3 separate regions of the Homo sapiens genome follow, and regions 1 and 2 are each linked to region 3. The links come from fine-mapping of genetic effects on gene expression. A gene starts in region 3. Each other region holds a variant in brackets. All regions are shown on one strand. Distances are between the middles of the regions.

Region 1 (8,168 bases), 90 kb before region 3:
CAAACACAGTAACATGCATTCTACTTATAGGTGAAATAAAGCAAGATAGCTAAATAGCAGATATATTTGTTCATTTTTACACTTCATAAACCTTTTTTTAGTTTTATTAATTGCAGACTGAAAAGTTTACAGAAAAATTAGCAATTTTTTTTTTCATTTCACTGTGAATTAATAGGCATGAGATTTTTTTAATTCGACTTACACTTTTTACATTTCTGGTTAAAATTTAATTATATGTAACATATTTGAGTTGACAAAATATACTCCAATTTTGTAGATATTCATAGTTTTGTATAAAATTGGTATATTTTTCTTTTGGATCTTTAGGTATGACCACTCTTTAATTCTATGTCTCTTAACTGAAGTTAAAATTACAGAAATAGTGGCGTACATGCTGCTTTTAGAAGAGCAGTCATGTAAGAGCACAGGGAAAGTGTAGTGATTTCTTTCCTTTGAGAGATGAGCAGCAGACATTTCACTTGTTCATTCTCTAAATGACTGTGTAGAGATTGCAGTATTTCTAATTGCATTGAGTTGAAAATTTTTATACTCCTTTGTATAAGTATTAGCTTTGAAGACAAATGCTTCTGCTTAAGAACAAAGTGAGGAATTGGGACCAATTCTGGCTAATTGGGAAATTTTTGGTAATTATTTTAATTGGGGGTAATTTGTAGTATATGATGAATTTGTTTACGGTTAGCTTTCAACTTGATCTCTTATCAATTTAGAATTTCTTCAGCCGTTGTTTATTGTTTTAATTTGACAAGATAAACGAAAACTCCTTACCCTGAAGATCATTTTATTGGGTCCCTGTCTTCAATTTACTAGAAAGTGAGATATTCAATTTACTTACTGATAATTGAATTATGAACAATTATTTTCTATCATAGATCCAGTATGGATATTAAAATGAGGTTTGTAAAATCTCTAAAATCTACAGTTCAGCTGCCAAGGCTTTGATGCCTCAAAGTTTCAAGTGGCCTATTCAGTCATCTTTTACATGTTCCTATCACTTCTTTAGTATTTTGTCAGTATTTTCTTCATGTGGTTTTTATTTCCACATAGTTCATCTAAACAAGCACTTTTCTTTTTAAAAGGCCTTTATCTGAAATATTTAGCTTTCCAGAATAACTGCTTAGCCATTAATATGACATCAATACATTAACTGATAAGGATTTTTAGATGGACCTGTAAGAATGACTAATCTGTTCTTTGTTTTCATCCTTTTTTTGTTAGCTTTTTATGGAATTGAATGTAAATTCACCATAGTCAGATATGAGCTGAGGCTTTTGGTTTTGAAAACAGCAGCAGCAGAAGAGTTGATATTGACAAATATTGGAATGAAAAATAAAGAGGGCTACAATCTGTATCATGCTGCCCTCTTTAAGCAGAAGTGAATTACATAGATATTTACATTAAAGAACGTTTTATGTTCAGAGCAGAAAGCAGCTGGGAGATAGAACAGTGAATAAGGAGTGGGAAACATGGTTCTTTTATTACCCCTGAATTTAAAAATATTCCTAATTTAGCCATTAAACTCTTTGGCTGTTTTTGTTTTGTTTTGTTTTGTTTTTTTGCATCATTTTCTAAGGTGGATGATACTCATGTTTGTTTTTATTCTTAAGATTCTCCTGAAACGGTATTATGAAGGAAGGTAGTATTCATTTTCTCATCTGCTGGCCTTTAACACCACAGCAAAGCTAAATTACAGCAATGAACCAACCATTCATATTTTGTAAACTATTCTGCAGTAGCCACTAGGCTGTGGCTTTTAGCATCATACAGTCCCTAGACCTTTTTCTCTCCATTCCAAATCCTGACAAGAGCCTGTGGTTTCCTCTACTTATGCAAAGTAAGCTTTTAATAAATAATGATATACAGAACCAGAGCTTATCAGTTTCCTAATATGGTGGGCAGAATTTGGCAGCAGTGACGCTACAAGCATGTTTTTTCCACATCCTTTCTGTTAATGGCAGAAACAATAGGCCCTGGCATGCTCCTTGGGGCACCCCAACCCCTTTTTTTAGTAGTGTCACATTTCAAAGTAAGTTTGAAATAAGTAGCTACATTTAATGGTTTACAGTACTTAAAATTGGGTTACATCCTTTTGTTTCATTTTTACTGCAAATAACATAATTAAATTTAACTTTGCAGGGAGCTTTCTATATGTATTCTTCAGTATTCCTTGGATTAAAAACAATAGCAATGAAAGAACAGAAATTCATAACTACATACAAAGGAGAAGTATTTTAAATTAATAAGCTGTGTTTTAGAGCAATTTTAGATTCACAACAAAATTGATCAGAAAGTACAGTATACCTTCTGTCCTCACACATGCACAACCTCCCCCAGTATCAGCATCTGCACCAGAGCAGTACATCTGGCTCATTAATATCACCTGAAGTCTACATATTTACATTACATCACATTAGGGTTCACTGTTGGTGTTATATGTTCTGTGGATTTTGACAAATGTATAGTGACGTGTATATAGTCATGTGTTGCTTAAAGACGGATATGTTCTGAGAAATGCCTCATTAGACAGTTTTGTCGTGCAAACATTATAGAGTGTACTTCCACAAATGTAGATGGCATAGCCTACTACACATCTAGGCAGTATGGTATAGTCTGTTGTTCCTATGCTACAAACCTGTATGATCCCACCTGTATGATACAGTAATACTGCATGTTACTGTACTGAATACTGTAGGCAATTGTTACACAATAGTATTTGTGTATCTAAACACAGAAAAGGTATGGTAAAAATACAATGTAAAAGATTTAAAATGGTACATCTGTATAAGGCACTTACCATGAATGGAGCTTCCAGGACTAGAAGTTGCGCTGGGTAAGTCAGTGAGTGAGCGGTGAGTGAATGTGAGGCCTAGGACATTATTGTATACTGCTGTAGACTTTATCAATACTCTATACTTGGGCTGCACTAAATTTATTTAAAAATTTTTCTTTCTCGAATTATAAATTAACCTTAGCTTCCTGTAACTTTAATTTTTTAACTTTCTGACTCTTGTAATAACATAGTTTAAAACACAAACATTGTACAGCTGTATAAAATATTTTCTTTCTTTATATCCTGATTCTATAAGCTTTTTTCCTATTTTTTAAATTTTTAGTTTTTAAAAATCGCTTGTAAGTTTGTTAAAAACTGAGACACACACTCACATTAGCCTAGGCCTGCACAGGGTCAGGATCATCAATATCACTGTCTTCCACCTCCACATCATCCCACTGAAAGGTCTTCAGAGGCAGTAACATGCATGGAGTTGTCATTTCCAATGGTAATAGTGCCTTCTGGAATACCTCCTGAAGGACCTGCCTGAGACTGTTTTACAGTTAACTTTTTTTGTAAGTAGAAGGATATACTCTAAAGGGTATAACACAGGAAATACATAAATGAGTAACATAGTCATTTATTATTATCAAGTATTATGTACCATGCATAATTGTAGATGCTATACTTTTTTATATATGACTGGCAGTGCAGTAAGCTTATTTACACCACCATCACCACAAAGTAATGAGTTGTTCTGTGTGACGGCAGCTATGATGTCACTAGACAGTAGGAATTTTTTAGCTCTTTTATAATCTCATGGGACCACTATTGTATATGTGGTTCATCATTGACCAGAACAGGCAGCACATGACTGTATACCATTGTAGCATTAGACAGAATAGGTTCACTGCTCGAAAAATTCTTTAATGCCTGTTCTTCCTTCCCTTCTAGAAACTCCTGGCAACCAATAATTTGCTTTTGCTTTTGTGTTTTCTTTAGCGTCAGGATGTCGCTCTGTTGCCCAGGCTGGAGTACAGTGGCACAGTCATGGTTCACTGCAGCGTCCATCCTCCTGCCACAGCCTTCTAAGTAGCTGGGACTACAGGCATGCACCACCACACCTAGCTAGTTTAAAAAGAAAATTTTTTTTTCCCCCAAAACGGAGTCTGGCTCTGTCACCAGGCTGGAGTGCAGTGGTGCGATCTTGGCTCACTGCAACCTCCTCCTCCTGGGTTCAAGCAATTCTCCCTGCCTCAGCCTCCCGGGTAGCTGGAATTAACAGGCATCCACCACCATGCCCGGCTAATTTTTGTATGTTTACTAGAGACAGGGTTTTGCCATGTTGGCCATGACAAACATGACAACATGCCATGTTGGTCAGTTGAACTCCTGACTTCAGGTGATCTGCCCACCTCAGCCTACCAAAGTGCT[G/T]GGATTACAGGCATGAGCCACTGTGCCTGGCCAAAACAATTTTTTGCATAGGCAGGGTTTTCCTATGTTGCCCAGGCTGGTCTTGAACTCCAGGCCTCAAGCAACTCTCCAGCTTCAGCTTCCCAAAGTGCTGGGATTAAAGGCCTCAGCCACTGTGCCTGGCCTAATATTTTATTATCTCCACAATTTTGCATTTTTCAAAATGTCGTATAGTTGGAATCATAAAGTATGTAGCCTTTTGAGATTGGCTTCTTTCACTTAGTAATATCCACTTAAGTTTCCTCCATGTCTTTTCATGTCTTTATAGTTCTTTTTTTTTTCCCAGTGCCGCACAGTATTTTTTTTGTTAGACATGATTCAAGAAGTAATATAACAAGCCACTAGCTCCTTTTAGCTAATCGGTGGTGAAAGAACTTTCAAAGTTCAACACATGTTCAATTTGTGGATTGTTATTTATAATTATAAAGATTTTCATGCTGTATTTTGTTTAAATCTAGAATGTTTAACAAATTATGAAATAATAAATATTAAAGGATGACTCAACAAGTATATCAGAACATATAATTTTAGTACCATTCAAAGCTTTCATAGGCTTTACTTATTTAAACTAAGCTTTCATATCTCCAAGCATCTTTGGGAATACTCTTGACATTGATTTTAGGGCTAGGTTGAGATACTACTATGAACTTCATTTTTAAAATGATACATTTCCAATAAAGTAAAAAGTTGGTAGAGATTGGTCATACAACTTATTACCAAACTTGTCTCTAATGACATATAGCTATTTCAGAAAGTCAGATCTAATTGTAAAGGATAAAGTATTTCCATCAGTGAGATACTTCATATGATGTAGGCCATCAAGACAGCCCTGAGAAGAGGATACTTGAGCATGAGTAGCATTGATAAATGCTAGAGTGTCAGAGTGTGTCAGAGTGATTTTGGCAAGTTTGTTTAACAGTTACAAATTACATTACCTTGTCATCATCGATTTATGTCAGTGATAAACTGTGCTATTTTCATAATTTCTGATATTTTAAAAGTATTTAGCATAAACCCCTTCCTATACTTGCTGCAATGAAGATAAAGATGATTTCAGTGGGACATGCTTAGTATTAATTTTTTAGGTGTTTTTCTGATATGTGACTTTTATATGAATATGGGTAAGGTTTTTTCTTATGCAAATAAAATATTTTTACTTGGACTAATTAGTAAAAGAATAATGAAAATGTAAAATTTATTCATTTTAGAATGCACTTTGAAAATATTAATTTATTGTGGCAGCACTATGAAGTGCTGGTTATAAGACATGTAGAATGGTACTTCTACAATTTTTTTGTGATAGCCTTAAAAGTATTTAGAATATCAAATATAGTTTTGATTTGCAGATTTCCTTTGGAAAATGTATTGCTGATGTGTTTGAAATTAAACTTTCTTACATAAATCTTCATTGTTTTAGTTTCTTTTTGGAAGTACTGGATTTAGCTTATAAATTATATAAGAATATAAAGTAAGTATAGCATATTGTTAGAATTTTCTTCTTTTCTTTTTCAGGCTCAAACTGCTTTTTCTGCAAACCCTGCCAATCCAGCAATTTTGTCAGAAGCTTCTGCTCCTATCCCTCACGATGGAAGTAGGTTTATACTTTGAGTTCATTCTCTGTGAACAGAAATATTGTTATCTTCTTTTGCTCATATAAGGAATCCAAGATTTTTTTTTGGACAGGCTGCATAAAATTGGTAGTTAAGCTCAAATAGTTATGAATAAGAAAAAAAAGTTTACTTCAAAAAATAACCCTTTTTCTAATTAAGATAGTGAACTGTGGATATGGGGATGTATTTCATGGCTTAATGAAAATTAATTTTAGACTGACTTGTAAATCCCTAACGTGGCTGATTCATTTATGAATGAATTATATATATGAATTCACATATGAGAACTATATGAATTCACATTTAAGAACTATCATGCTGCTGCTGTTGAACTTTCTGAATTGTCTTCTGTCTTTCCTATGGGAGCTTCTGAAATTTCCAACCACCTCCTCTTTGGGAAGCCTCCTAAATCTTAAGGCCTTTATTCATTCTCTGTATCCTGTCTTTGGTCCCTTTTTCTTCAAGGTTCAGAGGGATTCAGGACAGAGCTCCTAAATACTATGACTTAAGATACAAAATAAGTGTTAAATAAGTTTTTGTGGCCTGTCATTTTGTCTTACAACAGTTTATAACATTGTGCCTCATAGAAAATTCATTTTAAGTCACAGATAATTTAAGTCTCATGTAAAAAAGAGCTTTTGGAAATAGTATATAACTACTAATAAGTGAAATAATGTTAATATTTAAAAATACCATTTCCAGGATTTCATTGGAATGTGGTTAAAATTATTAAAATGATAAGACACTAAATAAATTTACAAGCTTCCAAAAAAAATTGTTCATAAGAATCATTCCATATCCCTGTTTACAGAATGAGTTATAAAGTAGCTGACTTGACAAATAGATATTTTGGTCAGTTGTTCTGAATTGGAGAATCAGTGGCATTCTTACTAAATTCCTAATCAAGTAAGTTTATTTTAAGAAACAGGAAAGGCAAGATAGTTTATTTGGAAAAGTTATTTCTACTTTTGAGTGTTTAGGAATCTCTGGTTGTTTCAGTTCAGATGTCTTCATATTTTACGAATTTTAAACATTTTCTGTATTTTCCATTTCTCATTATTACAGAGATGGGGAGATGCCTTTCCAAATTGCTACTTTAAATTCATTCTAGATTTTATAACTTAAGTGTAATTTTGTTAATACGCAGAAGCCCATAATGAGAGAAGTTTTCATTTTGTGTATTCTGTAAGTGCTTTTTAATTTATTCATTTACTTTTTAGATCTCTATCCCAGACTGTATCCAGAGCTCTCTCAATACATGGGGCTGAGTTTAAATGAAGAAGAAATACGTGCAAATGTGGCCGTGGTTTCTGGTGCACCACTTCAGGGGGTATGTATAGTGTAATTAATTTTGATTTATATAAAATCATACTTTACATGTTAGTATAAGCTTTCCTCTTTGTGGCTAACTCACAGATATACTACTAGCATTGAACCTCACTTCTCAGAAATTTTAGACTTCCTTTTGGATATCATTTCTTATATAGTCTACTTCATTTTGTGCTACACTGTTTTGAGTTTATTAGGACTTAGATTCAGATACCTTTTACTAGTTCGTTCTCCTTTGTCTTCTGCATTTAGTCAGTTACTAAGTCCTATTGATTCTGTTTCTGTTTCTTGTATTCATTTTATCTGTTTTTTATCCATTCTAGTCCTACTATAACCATATTCAGGGTTTCTATACTTCTAGCCTTCATTATTATAGTACTCTCTTAAATTTCCTCTAGTAACTTATTTCAGACAGTACTAAGCCGCTGCTAAGTTAATCATTCTGAAATACACATATAGGTCTATCATATCTTTGTTGCTCATAATCTTTTTTTTTTTTTTTTTTTTTTTTGAGGCATAGTCTCACTTTGTCACCCAGGCTGGAGTGCAATGGCGTGATCTCGGCCCACTGCAACCTCCGCCTCTTGGGTTCAAGCAATTCTCCTGCCTCAGCCTCCCAAGTAGCTGAGACTACAAGCGCGCGCCACCATGCCTGGCTAATTTTTTGTATTTTTAGTAGAGACCGGGTTTCACCATGTTGGCCACGCTGGTCTCGAACACCTGACCTCAGGTGATCCACCTGCCTCGACCTCCCAGAGTGCTGGGATTACAGGCATGAGCCACTGTGCCTGGCCTTTGCTCTTAATCTTTTAACATTCTTTTTGAAATTCAAAGCTCCATGTAATTAGACTCCAGAGTCTAGCTTAATTATAATGGGTCTGATAACCTTTTATTAAGGTTATTGCTATGACCATAGCACTTTGTACCACTTATTATAATTGTAGTTAAATCTGTGTCTGTCTTGTTGC
Region 2 (8,188 bases), 22 kb before region 3:
ACTTCCAGCTCCCCAGTATGTCTTGCTAGCCTCTGCCTCCTCTCTGAAACCCAGATGGATGCATCCAAATGCCTGCTGGACGTCTCCCCTTGGAGTTCTCATGGCCATCTTAAATCTCACATCCTACTTGAAGCCTGCTCCTTCCCAACTCTCTTTATCACTATAAAGGGCACTACTGTCTATCTCATTGGAGTCATTCTTGACTGTTCCCTTTTATACCCTGCGACCAATCCGTCAGCACATCTGTTGGGTTTTCTTCAGAATATACCTAGACAATGACCACCTCTCACCATCGTGGTTCAATACACTTGGATTCCTGGAACACCCCAATAGGTCTCCTTGCTTCCACTCTTGCCCTGGTTTGTACAGCGTGTTCTCTACCCAGCCCCCAGAGAGACTTACATACAAATCAGACACACCCCTTCTCTTTCAGCTCTCCAGTGGCATTTCTCTCTGCGCTTTATTCTAAGTCCTTACCTTGGCCCACAAGGCCCCGCATGACACGGTCCCTGCCCCTATTCCAGCCTCCCTTGAGTGTTCTCCTTGACTCACGCACCCCAGGAGCACTCACACTCCTGTGCCTCCCACCTGTCAAGGACATGCCCACCTTCAGGCTTCTCCCCCACCACTCTCTGTACCTGGAATACCAGTGTTTGTGATAATTGCACAGCTCAATGCCTTAAGCCTTCTGAGTCTCTTGGTAAGTGGCCTCTTCTCAGTGAGGCATCCCTGACTACTCTTTCTAAAGCAGCATGAGAACATTCCTTATCATTTTCTATCCTTCTGTCTTGCTTTCATTTTCTTCATAGCATTTGTTACCACCTGACATTAGAGGAGACATTTGTTTATTGTCTGTCTCCCCCACTGAAAAGTAAAGTCCATGGAGCAAAAGGCTTCAGATATCTTGTTCTTCCCTAGATTGCCAGAGCCCTGAATATAATACTTATTGAATCCATGAGTCGAATCTGTTATTCATATAAACATGCACACACCCTTCTTTAGCAGCAACAAAAAAATTGGAAGCAAAGCTCTCTAAATATAAAGCACCGTACTATATTTCTGAGATCTTGTGACCTAGTATATATTCAAAAAACCCAAAAGTTGCCTGGTTGTATACTTGACACAGGAAGCTTTAAATAATGCTTGAAAGAGTAGCTTGTGTCGGGCTGGTTTTGAGCTGGTTTCATACAAGACCTCTTCTATAAACTATTAAAAAAGTAGGTGGAGGAATTTGGGGGCTTTATTCCTAAGCTCAAAGTTATTAAATTTTTACTAAAATAACTAAAATGTATAGTTTTATAATGAAAACCCTATCTTCAAGTCAAAAAGTACCTCTTCCTTTCAAGATATGGGCTTTGTGGAACCAGGTCATGAAGTAAAATGACACGATAGACATGAGAGTATGGAGGTGGACCAGAATTATTAATAACGATGTTTGGTCCCCAGAGCAGTAGATGGTTGTCACTGTCTTCACATATACCAGTTAAAACAACATGAAGTTGAGGAAGCCTGTGAAATGTTTTCTTCCTTAAAATTAATAGAATCATGGAAGGTAGATGTAGAAAATCAAATCATCTGCTACCTCTCAGCTTTCATAAAATAACTTTCAACACATGTTAAAAGTGTTCTGTGAACAAAAGGCTTCAGTGATAGAAAAAGTGCTGGGAGCATGCTCTTCCCCTCCCCATCTGCCTCCTAGGGACACTCTGGTCTGTTGCATGAGAGGATTTAAGTCAAGTTTTGAAGTCAGCAAGTCCGTGCATCTTTGTTCCCACAGCTTTTCTTATCCCTTATTCATCCCAGAACAATTCTTCTCTGAACACTTCAACACCCCAAGGAACGAGAGCTGTCAAGGCAACATCTGCTAACCCTTTCGCTTTAAAGATGAAGCAGATGAAACCCAGAGCCAAAAGAAAGTAGTCCCTTCTTATTTACAATTTTTTAAATCTACATACTAATTAATAATATGACAGGAGAAAAAGCATGTTTTAATTGACCTTTTATTGCCAATGCTGTCATGCCTATATTGAGTGCAGTGGTGGGTGCATAAATATAAAGGGAATAAATCTGGAATGAACAAAAGGTTATTACCACAAGGGTCATAATGATACAAGACCACCAATCCCAAGTCATTGCCTTGGTTGTCCTAAGTCCCTGAGATCATTTAAGTGGCATGGCAATGGACTCTCACCTTCTAAATAGCTAGGAAGCTACGGGAAGAGCTGCATCCCTTCATTTCAAGCCTCGTAAATCATAAATCGTGAGAGCTCCAAGGACAAAACCGCAAGCCCACAGATATCACACACTTAATAAACATGAAGAAGCTCATTAGGGATCACATCTTTTTAAAACTATATTTCTCAATGACTGAATTCTAAAAGCATTTGATTTCTATTCCATGGTCTTCATCTGATATCTCTACAAGTAATTTCATTCATGCACATATATAAGAATGTTCATTCAGATTAGGAAAAAATATTTATTATGTGCTTACCTGACTGAAAATGAGTGAAATACCCCCAGATTTTGCCCTAAAATACAGATAAAAGTCATTAAATATATACAGCTTTTTGGTTGAAGTAAAATTAAACAGTGGTGAAAATGACATACTTTGTGAAGTGTCTATTGGCTCCATTTTCTCCATGCTTTCCTATTTTTATACAGTCTCTCAAAGGAATCTGGATAAAATTGAGAGAAATATTATAAAAATCAAGAAAGGTAAGACATACACAAAAAATAGGAATGTTTCTGTTCATATTTAAAATGTATTTACCTTGATGATGGGCTGGGATATTGAATCTGGTTCAAAAATCACCGATTTTGAACATATTTTTAAGGAGCCTCTGATTTTCCTAGGGATCCAAGTACAACAGATTGTTTGATGAGCATAACAAAAATCACAAGATAATCATAGTACATTTTAACTAGAAAGCAGGTTACTAAAGCATCACATAATAAAAGATCAATAATGCATATAAAGAGAACGTCTCTATTTTTAAATTAACTGGTAAAACAAAACACAGAATAGTGGTTCATATTGGCATTTACAATTCAAATGTTAGAAAGTTTTTAATTAAACTTCTTTGGTTTATATGTGTATCTCCATATAGTTTACAGCATCTATTGGCTAGAAACTTAATGAATCCAGAAACATCACACTGAGAAATAGTCTTACAGACTGAGAATGCCTACACTCATCCCACCCCAGAGTAACACTGCCTGTTCTTTTGTGAGCAGTAAATATTTACTTTGGCTTTCTATTCTCAGTGCTCAATATACATGTACTGAATAGATGAGAAGGCCCATTCTACTGAAGGTTATGATTTAGTTTGCAATTCTTTCTCAAAGGGTTTTTGAAATTTTATACCATTTCATATCATTTTTCCAAGTTGTTAACTGCATTTACTTTTCTAATACCCAAAATTACCCAATAGTAACATAAAAACTTTTATGAAATTTCTAAACATATACAAATAGAATAGAAAACTCCCATGTACCAATGGCCTAGCTCTACAATTGTCAATATGTGGTCACTCTTGTCTTGTGTATAACCCCCTGGGACCCTGCTGAATAACACAGAAAATTATTGACATCATATACTTTATCCACAAATATTTTAGCAAAAATCTCTGAAGACAGCCTCTCTTAATAAGTGACCAATCATTAACACACTCTAAGAAATTAATAATTCTTTAATGTCATCATGTATACAGCCAGTGTTCAAAGAATACTTTCAGAGGTAGTACACGGGTACTGCCTTCACATCCAGAGGCACCCAGAGGATCAGGTGATGTCAATCTCCATATAGCCATTACAAAATTTCCCAGCAGCTTCTCTCACCTAAAGGTTTTAGCAGCTATTGAAAATTACTATCTAGATCAAGGGCTGGTAAACTTTCTGTAAAGAGCCAGATAGTAAATATCTTTGCTTTGTGGGCCATATGGTCTCAGTCACAACCATTCAACTTTGCTGTTATAGGGAAAGCAGCCACACACAGTATGTACACAAATGGGAATGCCTGTGTTCCAGTAAAACTTTACAAGAACAAGTGGCAGCTCAGATATGGCCCAAGGGCTGTAGTTTGCCAAGCCCTGCTGTGAATCCATTCTTCCATTAGGCATTGAAATTTTATCATTCCTTCTATGTTATGAGCTAGAATTTGACAAAAAAGAACAACTTTACTTATCAGCAATTTGGCTACCCTGAAGTACAATTTGTACAAGGAAAATAACAAAAATGCTTGATTCTTTACCTTTATTTATCAAGTGTTACAAAAATGAGTTGTTGTCTTCCTATCCTTCGAGGATAACTGATTAAGATTATACACACACACACACACACACACACCCACACACAAACACACATATTTATAAAATTACGTACTCATGAATTTTAACATTTATGAAACATTTCAATCCATTGCAGAAGTTATTCTTTTCTGATGCTTACATTGTCGCATTTTTGGCCCAATGTCAGCATCGTCTACTTGCCCCTGCATCCTTTTAATTCATTTACAGTAGTCTTTGATACCTTCCTTA[C/T]TTGCCAGTATGACAGGATGTCCCAGGTTCATCTCACAGATTTCCTGCCTCTGACTTAGAATCAGCAATTTCTCCAAAGAACCCCCATCCTTTCAGTGGGAAGTGGTATTAAGAGACCAGATTCTTGGTGCTGATTGCAACTGAGTTATTTCTAGGCCTTTTCAAAAGATAGAGGTAAGAAATACTGTCATTTAAAGAGAAAAGCAACACAAAGGTGCCCACTCTTACCACTACTATTCAACATAGTACTGGAAATCCTAGCCAGAGCAATTTGGCAAGTAAAAGAAAGAACAGGCATCCAAATTGGAAAAGTTAAACTGTCTCTGTTAGCAAATAACATGATTTTATATGTATACAAAAACCCTAAGGATTCTATCAAAAAAACTATTCAAACCAATAAACAAATTCAGTAAAACTGAAGAATACAAAATCAATATACAAAAAACAGCGTTGCATTTCTATATGCTAACAATGATCTATCCAAAAAAGAAATTACAGAAACAATTCAATTTATAAAAGCACCAAAGGAAAAACAAAACACTTAGGAATAAATTTAACCAAGGAGGTAAAAAGTCTGTACACTGAAAACTACAAAACACTGATGAAAGAAACTGAAGTAGACACAAATAAATAGAAAGATATCTGGTGTTCACAGACTGGAAGAATTAATACTGCTAAAATGTCCATATTTTCCAAAGCAATCTACAAATTAAAAGCAAACCCTATTAAAATCCCAATGGCATTTTTAACAGAAACAGAAAAAAAGAAATTAACATTGATATTGACCCACAAAATAAACAAAACACCCAAAACAATCTGTTTTGTTTCATTTTAAGAAATGGGATCTCACTATGTCACCCAGGCTAGAGTTCAGTAGCATGATTATAGCTCACTGCAGCCTCAAAATGGGCTCAATCAATCCTCCTGCTTCAGCTTTCCAAGTAGCTGTGACTCCAGGTGTGCACCACCATGCCCAGCTAATTTTTAGTTTTTTTAGAGATGGGGTCTTGCTAGGTTGCTCAGGCTGGTCTCCAACTCCTGGTCTCAAGTGATCCTCCCTCCTCAGCCTCCTGAGTAGCTGGCATTACAGGTGCAAGCCACCATGCCTGGTCCAGAGTAATCTTGAACAAGAAGAACAAAACTGGTGGCATCAAACTACCTGGTTTCAAAATATACTACAAAGCTACATTAATCAAAACAGCATGATACAGCTGTACAGACCAATGGAACACAATACATCCACATATATGCAGTCAACTAATCATCCACAAAGGTGCCAAAAACACACAATGAAGAAAGGATAGTTTATTTAATAAATGGTGTTGGGAAAACTAGATATCCCCGTGGAAAAAAAAAAGTGAACCCTTACCTCATCCCATACATAAAAATCTACTTGAAATGAACTGAAGACTTAAATGTAAGTCCTGAAATTGTAAAACTGCTGAAAGAAAAAATACAGAAAAGCTTCTCGGCATTGGTCTGGGCAGTATTTTGGATGACTCCAAAAGCACAGGCAATATAAGCAAAAATAGACAAATGGGATTACATAAAACAAAAAGCTTCTGTGCATCAAGAAAAATAATTAACAAAGTCAAAAGACAACCTACGGAATGGGAGAAAATAGTTGAAAACCATACTTCTGATAAGGGGCTAATATCCAAAATACATAAAAAACTCGAACAACTTGATAGTATAATAAGAAAACAAATAGCCTATTAAAAGACAGGCAGAGGACCTGAATAGACATATCTCAAAAGAAGACATACAAATGGGTGGGTGTGGTGGCTCACGCCTGTAATCCCAGCACTTTCGGAGGCCGAGGCGGGTGGTTCACAAGATCAGGAGATCGACACCATCCTGGCTAACACGGTGAAACCCCGTCTCTAATAAAAATACAAAAAAATTAGCCAGAAATGGTGGCACGTGCTGTACGCCCAGCTACTTGGGAGACTAAGGCAGGAGAATCGCTTGAACCCGGAAGGCAGAGGTTGCAGTGAGCAGAGATCACGCCACTGCACTTCAGCCTAGGTGACAGAGTGAGACTCCGTCTCAATAAAAAAAAAAAAAGAAGAAGAAGAAGAAGAAGAAGACATACAAATGGCCAACAAGCATATGAAAAGATCCTCAGCAGCCTTAATCATCAGAGAAAAGCAAATCAAAACCACATTAAGCTATTGCTTCACACCTGTTAGGATGGCTATTATCAAAAAACAAAAGATAACAGTTGTTGGCAAGAGCGTGGAGAAAAGAGAACCCTTATATACTGCTGGTGGGAATATGAATTGGTTTAGCCATTAAAGAAAACAGTACAGAGGTTTCTCAAAAAACTAAAAATAGAACTACCATACTATCCAGCAATCCCACTTCTGGGTATACATCCAAAGCAAATGGAGCCAGTATGTTGAAGATGTATCTGTACTCCCATGTTCATTACAGTATTATTTACAGTAGCCAAGATTTGGGATCAATCTAAGTGTCCATTGATAGATTAATGAATAAAGAAAATATGATATATATATGAATATAAAACATATAAAAATAGACATACATACATACACACAATGGAATATTATTCAGCCTCAAAAAAGGAAATCCTGCTACTTGTGGCCATGTGGATGGACTTGGAGGACATTATGCTAAGTAAAATAAGCCAGCCACAGAAGGACAAATACTACATGATTTCACGTAGACTCTAAAAGAGTTTAATTCAAAGAAGAGACAAGAATGGAACTTACGAAAATTTTTTAGGTGGGAAAGCTCAGAGCTTTGTTCAGGCAAGAGTAAGTTAAACTTCACGAAATTAAAGGGGGTGGAAGAAATGGGGAGATGCTGGGCAAAGTGCACAAGTTGTCCATTATCCAGGATAAGTTCTGCAGATTTAATGTAGAGTTATTGACTACAGTCCATACCACATCATACACTTGAAATTGGCTCAGAGAGTAGATCTTATATGTTCTTATTCCCACACACACAAAAGAAGGTAACTGTGAGGTGATGGATATGATAATTACTTTGATTGTGGTCAGCATTTCACAATGTGTATGTATATCAAAACATCAAATTGTATACCCTAAATATATACAATTTTTATTCATCAATTATATCTCAATAAAGCTGGAAAAAAGGAGGAAAGTGCATGAAAAAGGCTTTATTTCTTTAATATTACATGTATGTCTCTTTTCTTTTATACTGGAAAATCTGAGTCTTGGCCATACTTATTAAATTGTTTTATCCAATTATATAAATACATATACATGCATGTATAAAATAGTTTCAAAATAATAATACTAATAGTATACTAATAACAACAATATTGCAACTGGAAAAGTTTACAATTACTTTACATTCTTTTTCAACTTCTTTGCAATACTTTTTCATCTTACCAGAGATACACAGTCAAATTATTATATTGTAAAGTTGATTAAAATAATTTTCTGTGGCTAACTCCAACTTTATAATTAAATTCATTTGTTTCTTGTCTTTTCTTTTTTTAATATATAATTGTAATAAATAGAAACAGAGTTTCGCTATGTTGATCAGGCTGGTCTCAAACTCCTGGCCACAAGAGATCGTACTGTACTGCCTTGGCTTACTAAAGTGCTGGGATTACGAGTGTGAACCACCACACCTGAACTGTTTCATTTTCTCTT
Region 3 (8,188 bases):
CCCAAAGTTCTGGGACTACAGGCATGAGGCACCACACCTGGCCTATTTATTTTTTAAATAGAGAAAAGGTCTCCCTATGTTGCCCAGGCTGGTCTCAAACTCCTGAGTTCAAACGATCTTTGTGCCTTGGCCTCCCAAAGGGCTGGGATTACAAGTGTAAGCCATGGCACCTAGGCAAGTATCTAAACTTCTACATTACCCAAGAAATAGCTGTCATCCCAACACTCCACGGTGGATAGTAAAGCAAAAAAATTTAACAATTTGCCTACTTTAGTCTACTTCTAAATCATAAAATAGAAATGTCTTTTTTTTTTTTTTCTTTGCGATAGGGTCTCACTGTGTCACCCAGGCTGGGGTGCAGTGGTATGACCATAGCTCACTGTAACCTTGGACTCCTGGGCTCGAGTGATCTTCCCACCTTTTAATATATTTCATATTAAAATAGAAATGTCTTAAATAGAAAGTCTGTATAATATCCTCATCTACTAACCCAATGTATACACCTGCCATCCCTGACAAATCCAAGGAAGACATGTGAATTGCCTTTAACGCCTGTAATCCCAGCACTTTGGGAGGCCGAGGCGGGCGGATCACGAGGACAGGAGATCGAGACCATCCTGGCTAACACGGTGAAACTCCGTCTCTACTAAAAATACAAAAAATTAGCCGGGCGCTGTGGTGGCCGCCTGTAGTCCCAGCTACTCGGGAGGCTGAGGCAGGAGAATGGCGTGAACCCGGGAGGCGGAACTTGCAGTGGGCTGAGATCGTGCCACTGCACTCCAGCCTGGGCGAGAGTGAGACTCCGTCTCAATAAAAAAAAACAATAAAAAATAAAAAATGTTTTCAATTTACCCTCACCAACACCTGCACAGGACATTTTTAAAAAACAATAAAATCAATATGGTTCCTGCTATCTAAATCTTTTTTTTGTTTGTTTGTTTGAGATGGAGTCTCGCTCTGTCGCCCAGGCTGGAGTGCAATGGCACCATCTCGGCTCACTACAACCTCCGCCTCCCAGGTTCAAGCAATTCTCCTGCCTCAGTCTCCCAAGTAGCTGGGACCACAGGCGCACGCCACCATGCCTGGTTAATTTTTGTATTTTTATTAGAGATTGGCCAGGCTGGTCTCGAACTCCTCACCTCGTGATCTGCCTGCCTTGGCCTCCCAAAATTTGGGGATTACAGGCGTGAGCCCTGTGTCTGGCCTGCCACCTAAATCTTAACCAGGATATAAGTATACTTATTTCGAATGGCCAAGTGTCTGTTTTCTAATCCTTAAAATTACCAAAACATTTATTTATAAACATCAACAATAAATGGCACCACTTTATAGTTATTCAAACCAGAAGTCTGAGAGTAGAATTTCCATGTTTAGCAAATAAAAATATCATATGCCCAGTTACATTTGAATTTCAGATAAATAATATACTTTTAAAAATTTTAGTATAAGGGCCGGGCACGGTGGCTCACGCCTGTAATCCCAGCACTTTGGGAGGCCAAGGCGGGTGGGTGGATCACGAGGTCAGGAGATCGAGACCATCCTGGCTAACACGGTGAAACCCTGTCTCTACTAAAAATACAAAAAATTAGCCGGGCGTGGTGACAGGCGCCTGTAGTCCCAGCTACTTGGGAGGCTGAGGCAGGAGAATGGCGTGAACCCAGGAGGCGGAGCTTGCAGTGAGCCAAGATCACGCCACTGCACTCCAGCCTGGGCAACAGAGCGAGACTCTGTCTCAAAAAAATAAAAATAAAAAAAATTAGTATAAGTATATACCAAATATTGCATATACTATTGCATTTACTTATACTAAAAAAATTTTAGTATAAGTACATACCAAATATTGCATATACTATCGCAATTACTTATACTAAAAAATTATTCATTGTTTATCTGAAATTCGAACTTAACTGGGTGTGCTGTATTTTATCAGATAATCCTAGCTGGAATTCTTCCTTTATCACCTCTCACAGACAATACACCACACCAAGACCTGTCAATCACACGTCCTAAAAACATCTAGAATCCATCCACTTTCCTCCATTTATTCTGCCACCACCTTGGTTTAAACCACCAATGCAAGAATCTCCTAGTCAGTCTCTATGCTTCTGCTTTTGCAGGAATATCAAAGTACATCAACCTAACAATAAGAGAAATAAATGCTCATTTCAAGTTTCTTTTCTGGGGTCAATATTTGGTAGCTCTGGAAATCTAAAATCCCTTAATTAGCATGAGAGCCGCCAGTGAACTTACAATGAACAGGTTGAGGCCTCTCATGGGTAACCTCTGAAACAACCCCTCTTCAAGTTTTCCAAGAAAAGTAACAATTTTCCTGGGTATGCTGGAGCCAATGACGAATCCAATCCATTTGCTAATTTGTGTTTATTGATGCAAGGGGATAAACCCGGAAAAATCTGGGCAGAAATGGTAAATTTGGGGCTTAATAAAGTTGCCTTAAAATATTCCTCTGTTTCAGAATGAATTCTAAGATTTATAAAAGAGACTCCTTGATTCCAGTGCATACCTGATGTGAGACAGATTCCTGTCATTCAAATGCATATTCTATGCATTGAATGGAGTATGCCCATCAGCCCAGGTTGCAAAGCCATGGGGCAGAGCACTAAACAATTTGGGCACTCAGCAAGTTATAATTCAAATAAATATAAAACACATGGCGCCAACTTTTTCAGATGACTGATGCTCAGGAACAGTTGATGCCTCCTGACTGGATAGATAAATGTTTTGGTTGCCAAGAGCTAGAGTTCTCTCTGAACACTGCCAGCCTATCACGTTGTTGTCTAATCAATGAATTCTAACAAAGCAGCATATACATGGAAATGCAAGTACAGGTTTCAAGGTTTGTGTGACACCACGGAGCTGTATGAGCTAGCCAAATTGAACACAAATTACTTCATCGAAATAACAGCCAGAACCAAGGAAAAAACGTTTCCCTGTATATCAAAAAGGCCAATATGAGTATTGGCACGAATGACTCATATCATACAACATGATGCCAATTCAAGTGTGTCAAAGTTCTCACAATTTAAATATGAATGTTCACCCACTCAATACAGAGCACCAACAAGTCTTAATATTGTTGGTACTAAACAAAGAATCTCCACTCAAGCTCTTTCCACAAGAAAAATGCATTACAAATTCAGTCAGAAGGGCATCCCCAAGTGTGAGTTACATAGTTAGGGCTCAGTTATTTAATAAACAACCCTTTCTGTGACTAAAACCTAATCACATCACCAAAAACATTTTTGAAAGCCATATCTGAGATACGTTTTCTGTGTATCGTATCTTCTTCTCTACAGTAGAAAAATGACATTTCGTACTGTGGACACACTGGTTAGACCAACATTACAGATTAGAGAAAGATGAATGTCTGGATCAAAGGGGTCGAGTCAACCCTTATAAAACAAGTGTAGACAAATCTTGAAGTCTGCACTTGTATTCCCACGTGTAACCTGCTTTGCTGGTATTCACTGATGAGACAACGTGACAGGCTAGCAGCACTGGAAGATCTGTGGCTCTCACAATCAAAACAGTGTGTCTGTAAAATGATTCAGCCCCCCTTTCCTTTTGGCATCTGAGCTGCAGACCGAGCAAGTTGTTTCTGTCACCAAAAATGCCCTGGGAACTATACATAGAGCCGAAGTGAGCTTTCTTATGAGACTTCCCTTGGGGACAGGTCCAGCATATCTGAAAGGGAACTGCTGTGAGACCATTTTAGCTCAAGGGATCCCAAATCCTTACTGGGATGCTGGTGAGAATGAGTGCTCCGCTGCCGCACCGCGATTTCGACTGCAAAGCTTTCCAACACAAGGTCCACTGCGCGGGGAGCAAGTGTTTGGGAGGCAGGACCTTGGCTTTCCTCAGAATCAGGCCTTTCCGGCGGCCCCCCTCCCAGCCTTCCAGGGCATGGAGCTAGTCCTGTGTCTAAAGGAGTCGGCAGGAAAAAGGCGCGGCAATGCGAGTGGGTGGTCGCCGGCCTGCTCGGTGCCGCCCGGCGACCAACTCTGCGGCGCCGGCGCCGAGTGCCTGGACCCGATTAAGGGGAAGGATTAGAAAGGGGGTGCCCGCCGGGCAGCGTACTCACCCTCCCCTGCGAACGCCCGGGCTCGCGTGCCGGGATCCACGCCCGGACCCCGCGCGGCCTTCCGGGTGAGCTGCCCGCGGCCGCCGGGACCTGCACTGCCGGATAGCTCGGCATGCCTCGGCTCCGCGGTGGAATCTGGCCTGGCCCGTCATCCAGTTCCTGTCCCCGGCAGGCTCCGGCCCAGACCAGGCCCCCGGCCTCTCACCCCGACCTCAGGTTTCCGCCACAGCCCCCAGCCCAGGCCCTGGACACGCGTCCGGCCCCTGCCTCCGTGCCCGGCCCCCACGCCGCCTCCCGTCCCTCAGATCTCCGGCCGGCGTCCCCACGACCGGCCCCGACTAGGCCCCCGGCTGGGCCCTTCTTCAGCTGGGCGCGCACCTCTCCTTGGAGTAGAGCTGCAGCTGCTGCTCCTGCTGCTTCTTCCGGATAAACGCCATGGAGGGTAGGCGCGGGCGGGCGCAGAGCGCACAGGCAGGCCCCGCCGCCGCCTGCCGAGGAGGTCCGGAGGAGCCGGGGAGGGCGGGATTGGTGGCCGGCTGGGGAGCGCGCGGCTGCCGGCCTGGCTTCCCCTGCGGCGCCGCTGGGCGGCCGAGAGCCCGACGCGGCGTCCCGGCCGCGCTCACCGCAGCATCCTCGCGTGGGGACTCCGGCGGCACCGTGACTCAGGCCCGGAGGAGGGGCGCGCGGTGACACGAGGCGCCCCAAACTCAGGCCGCCTCAGAGGATCGCCAGGGCCAGCGGCCAGACCAGGATCCGACCTCACACACTAAACGTTTCACCACTTTACCAACCATTGCAGGCTGCGTTTTAAATATTTTACGCATAAAAAGGGATGCTGGCCCATAAACCACCAATCTGTTGGCCACAAAGACTTGAAATAACAACGTTTTGTGTCCTCCATTGTGAAAAAAAAAAAAAGACGGAAGTTAAAGGGGTGAAGGCAACTCAGTCGTAACTATTCCAAATACACCAGGAATAAGTGGAGATTTATAGCCAAGGAGCAAGGAGCAGGTGTTCGGAAAACTGCTAAGAGGAAACATCAATTCTGGGGGAAATTCTGGCTGAACCAACCTAACAGGAGTCCCAGTGAAGGCAGGCCAGGGGGTCAGATACTAAGGGTAGGAGTAAAGAATTTTGATCACATATGGAGGGTGGGGGATTCTTGCTAAACTGCCGTGGCAGTGTTACTTCCTAACACTGCATTTACAAGGAAGTGCACACAAGGACCTGGGAGAAGATTCAGAAGCCTAACTGAAGTTTGGCCAAGCAAAGAATCTTTAACACAGTCTCTTGATTGTTGAGATAATTGCTCGCATGATTTTTTTTTATATAACAGCTTTATTGGGATATAACTCACATACCAAACAAGTCAACCATTTAAAGTATACCATTCAGCGATTTTTAGTATATTTCCAGATATGTTCAACAATCACCACAATTTGAGAACATTTTCATCACATGTAAAAGAAACCCATACCCTCTAGCTGTCACTCTTCCTAACTCTACCCTCCAAACCCCAGCCCTAGCAAACAATAATCAATTTCCTGTCTCTATGGGTTTGCCTATTCTGGATATTTCATATAAATGGAGCCATACAATATGTGGCCTTTTGTGTCTGGCTTCTTTCATTTAGCGTAATGCTTTCAAGGTTCATCTATGTTGTAGCATGTATCTGTACAGTACTTCGTTCCTTTAGATTGCTGGAGCATATTCTGTTGCATTTTGTTTATCCATTCATCAGTTGATGGACATTTCAGTTGTTTCCACATTTTGGCTATTGTGAATAAGGCTGCTGTACACAGTCATGTACAGTTTTTTTATGGACCTATGTTTCCATTTCTGTTGAGTGGAATTGGAATCTAAGAGTGGAATTGCTGGATGTGGAGGCGAAAGCAGCTCCATCTTGGAAGCTAATCCTCCGTGTTGACTTCTGATTGACCCCAGTTCTGGGAAGGCCTCTAAGATTTCTACTTTATCTATTGTTCCTTGTGTAAGAGCAGGTATCTACCCAGTATGTTCTGTCCTTAATTCAAACAACTTGATGTTATTATACTTCAATTGTCCTACACATCCCTTCTGAACCACCCCTCCCCTATGGTATATAAGCCCTAAGGGGCTGGAGTGATGGCTCATGCCGGTAATCCCAATGCTTTTGGAAGTTGAAGCTGGAGGATTCCTTGAAGCCAGGAGTTCGAGACCAGCCTGGGCAACAAAGCAAGACCCTGTCTCTACAAAAAATAAAAAATAAAAATTACCTGGGTACAGTGGCACACACCTATAGTCCCAGCTACTGGAGAGGCTGAGGCAGGAGGATTGCTTGAAGCCAGGAGTTCGAGACCAGCCTGGGCAACAAAGCAAGACCCTGTCTCTACAAAAAATAAAAAATAAAAATTACCTGGGTGCAGTGGCACACACCTATAGTCCCAGCTACTGGAGAGGCTGAGGCAGGAGGATCACTTGAGTCCAGGAGTTTGAGGCTTCTGTGAGCCATGATCGTACCACTGCACCCCAACCTAGGCAATACAGAGAGAGAGAGACCTTATCTCAAAAGAAAAAAAAAAAAAAACATTGAGTCTGGGGGTTAATAGCACAGCAATCCACCATCTCATCTTGCTGCCCAAGACACAGATATGGACATGGCTTCTGTTCCTTAGTCGCTATTAAATGTTTCTTCCCAAGGAACTTTATTTGTCAGCCTCTTTCTTCCACCTCCCGGCATCCCAGGACTTTGAGATAGATTTGTATAGGCCTGCCCACCATGGAACTGGGTCATATGGTAACTCCATGTCTAAATGTTTGAGAGACTGCCAGACTGTTTTCCAAAGTGGCTGTACGATTTAACATGCCCACCAGCAGCGTAGAAGGGTTCCAGTTTCTCTACATCTTTACCAGTATTTATTATTACCTGACTTTTGTTTAGAGCTATTCTAGTGGTATGAGTGGTATCTCAGTGTGGTTATAACTTCTTAATATATGCTGAGAATGAGCCTCTGATTGTTTACCTTTGAGGGATTCTTGAATAACACGCCTCTAAGTTTCTTTTTCACGTTAAACAGGTAATGTGCCAAACTCGTAACAAGGTTCAAGGGCGGCACATCACACAGCTGCACATGAACACCCAATCATCACACTTATGAACTACAAAAGGATCCAAACCTCTAAATTGTATGCTTGTGGAAACATATCTCATACTGTCTTAAGGATCAGGTTTTGCAGGGTTACATTTTTAGAAGCTTCAAGGTAAATGTACATCTCAGCTTTCTCTAGTAAGTCGCAGGACTGTGAAGAGAAGGTAGGGAAACCAAGAATAAAAGTTGTGGCTGGGTCTTTTGAATTTGACCCCTAGCAGCACTGGACAAAATGCTATGTATACTGAGCACACCCATTAAAAATTTTGGGAATGAATGAAGGTGCCTGGGTACCCTTTGACTGTGACTGAGTCCCTTCCACGTGTCCAAGTGCAGTGCAGAACCTGTAACACATTAGGTCAACATTCCTGGAGGAAATTGTGATGCTGTCTGGTAGCCAAGAAATAAATACATGAGCAGGTACACAATGAAATAAGATAATAAAATTTGTCAAAAGGTACATGATAAATTTCTTTATGAGAAGTACTACAAAAGGTTCTGTGAGTTCAGAGGAGAGATTAATTTGGCTGGAATAAGGAAAAAACAACAACAAAAACCCAGAATGTAAGTTATCTTCTTGAAGTTAAACATTAGAGGAAGATTAGATGTGATCGAATAGGCAGAGACTGTTAAAGAATCTCCTTAACCCAACTCTAGCCAAATTCCTCTGAGCCCACTTCTCAACTAGGCCTCAACCTTGGCCTATAAAAACCAGACTCCCAGCACGAATAATTTAGTCCAGTCCCCATCCCCCACATTAAAAGACTTAAACAAACAAACATAATTTCTAACAGCTTGAGGCCACATCCCTAGCATAACCCAGCCCCACTTAATGTACCTGTCTGAGAAAGCTCAAAGCAATTAAAAGAATTTACTACTTATGCCCGGCACGGGTGGTTCACGCCTGTAATCCCTGCACTTTGGGAGGCCAAGGTGGGCGGATCACCTGGGGTCAGAAGTT

The links. PIP is the estimated chance that this variant, and not a neighbour inherited with it, causes the effect.
Region 1: its variant is the best candidate, but not a certain one, in a credible set for the expression of NSMAF in blood mononuclear cells (TOPMed, PIP 0.56).
Region 2: its variant is the best candidate, but not a certain one, in a credible set for the expression of NSMAF in cerebellar hemisphere (GTEx, PIP 0.67).

Annotation. Positions count from the first base shown.
Region 1 is chr8:58,565,114-58,573,281 of GRCh38, forward strand. SDCBP (syndecan binding protein) reads left to right here. Exons shown (of 9, transcript NM_005625.4): 3 at 5,774-5,852; 4 at 7,092-7,201. Among named protein-coding and RNA genes, the nearest start is that of SDCBP, 16 kb to the left of the region's middle. The variant G/T (reference allele first, on the strand shown) is at 4,223.
Region 2 is chr8:58,632,695-58,640,882 of GRCh38, forward strand. It overlaps NSMAF (neutral sphingomyelinase activation associated factor), which reads right to left. Exons shown (of 31, transcript NM_003580.4): 3 at 2,774-2,852; 4 at 2,611-2,678; 5 at 2,495-2,531. Among named protein-coding and RNA genes, the nearest start is that of NSMAF, 23 kb to the right of the region's middle. The variant C/T (reference allele first, on the strand shown) is at 4,539.
Region 3 is chr8:58,655,096-58,663,283 of GRCh38, forward strand. NSMAF (neutral sphingomyelinase activation associated factor) reads right to left here and starts at 4,758. Exons shown (of 31, transcript NM_003580.4): 1 at 4,478-4,758. The coding sequence starts at 4,536. It overlaps LOC124902083 (small nucleolar RNA U13), which reads right to left and starts at 7,249; the gene lies at 7,146-7,249. RefSeq lists enhancers at 3,198-3,761, 3,296-3,585, 3,762-4,324 and silencers at 4,036-4,485, 4,496-4,835.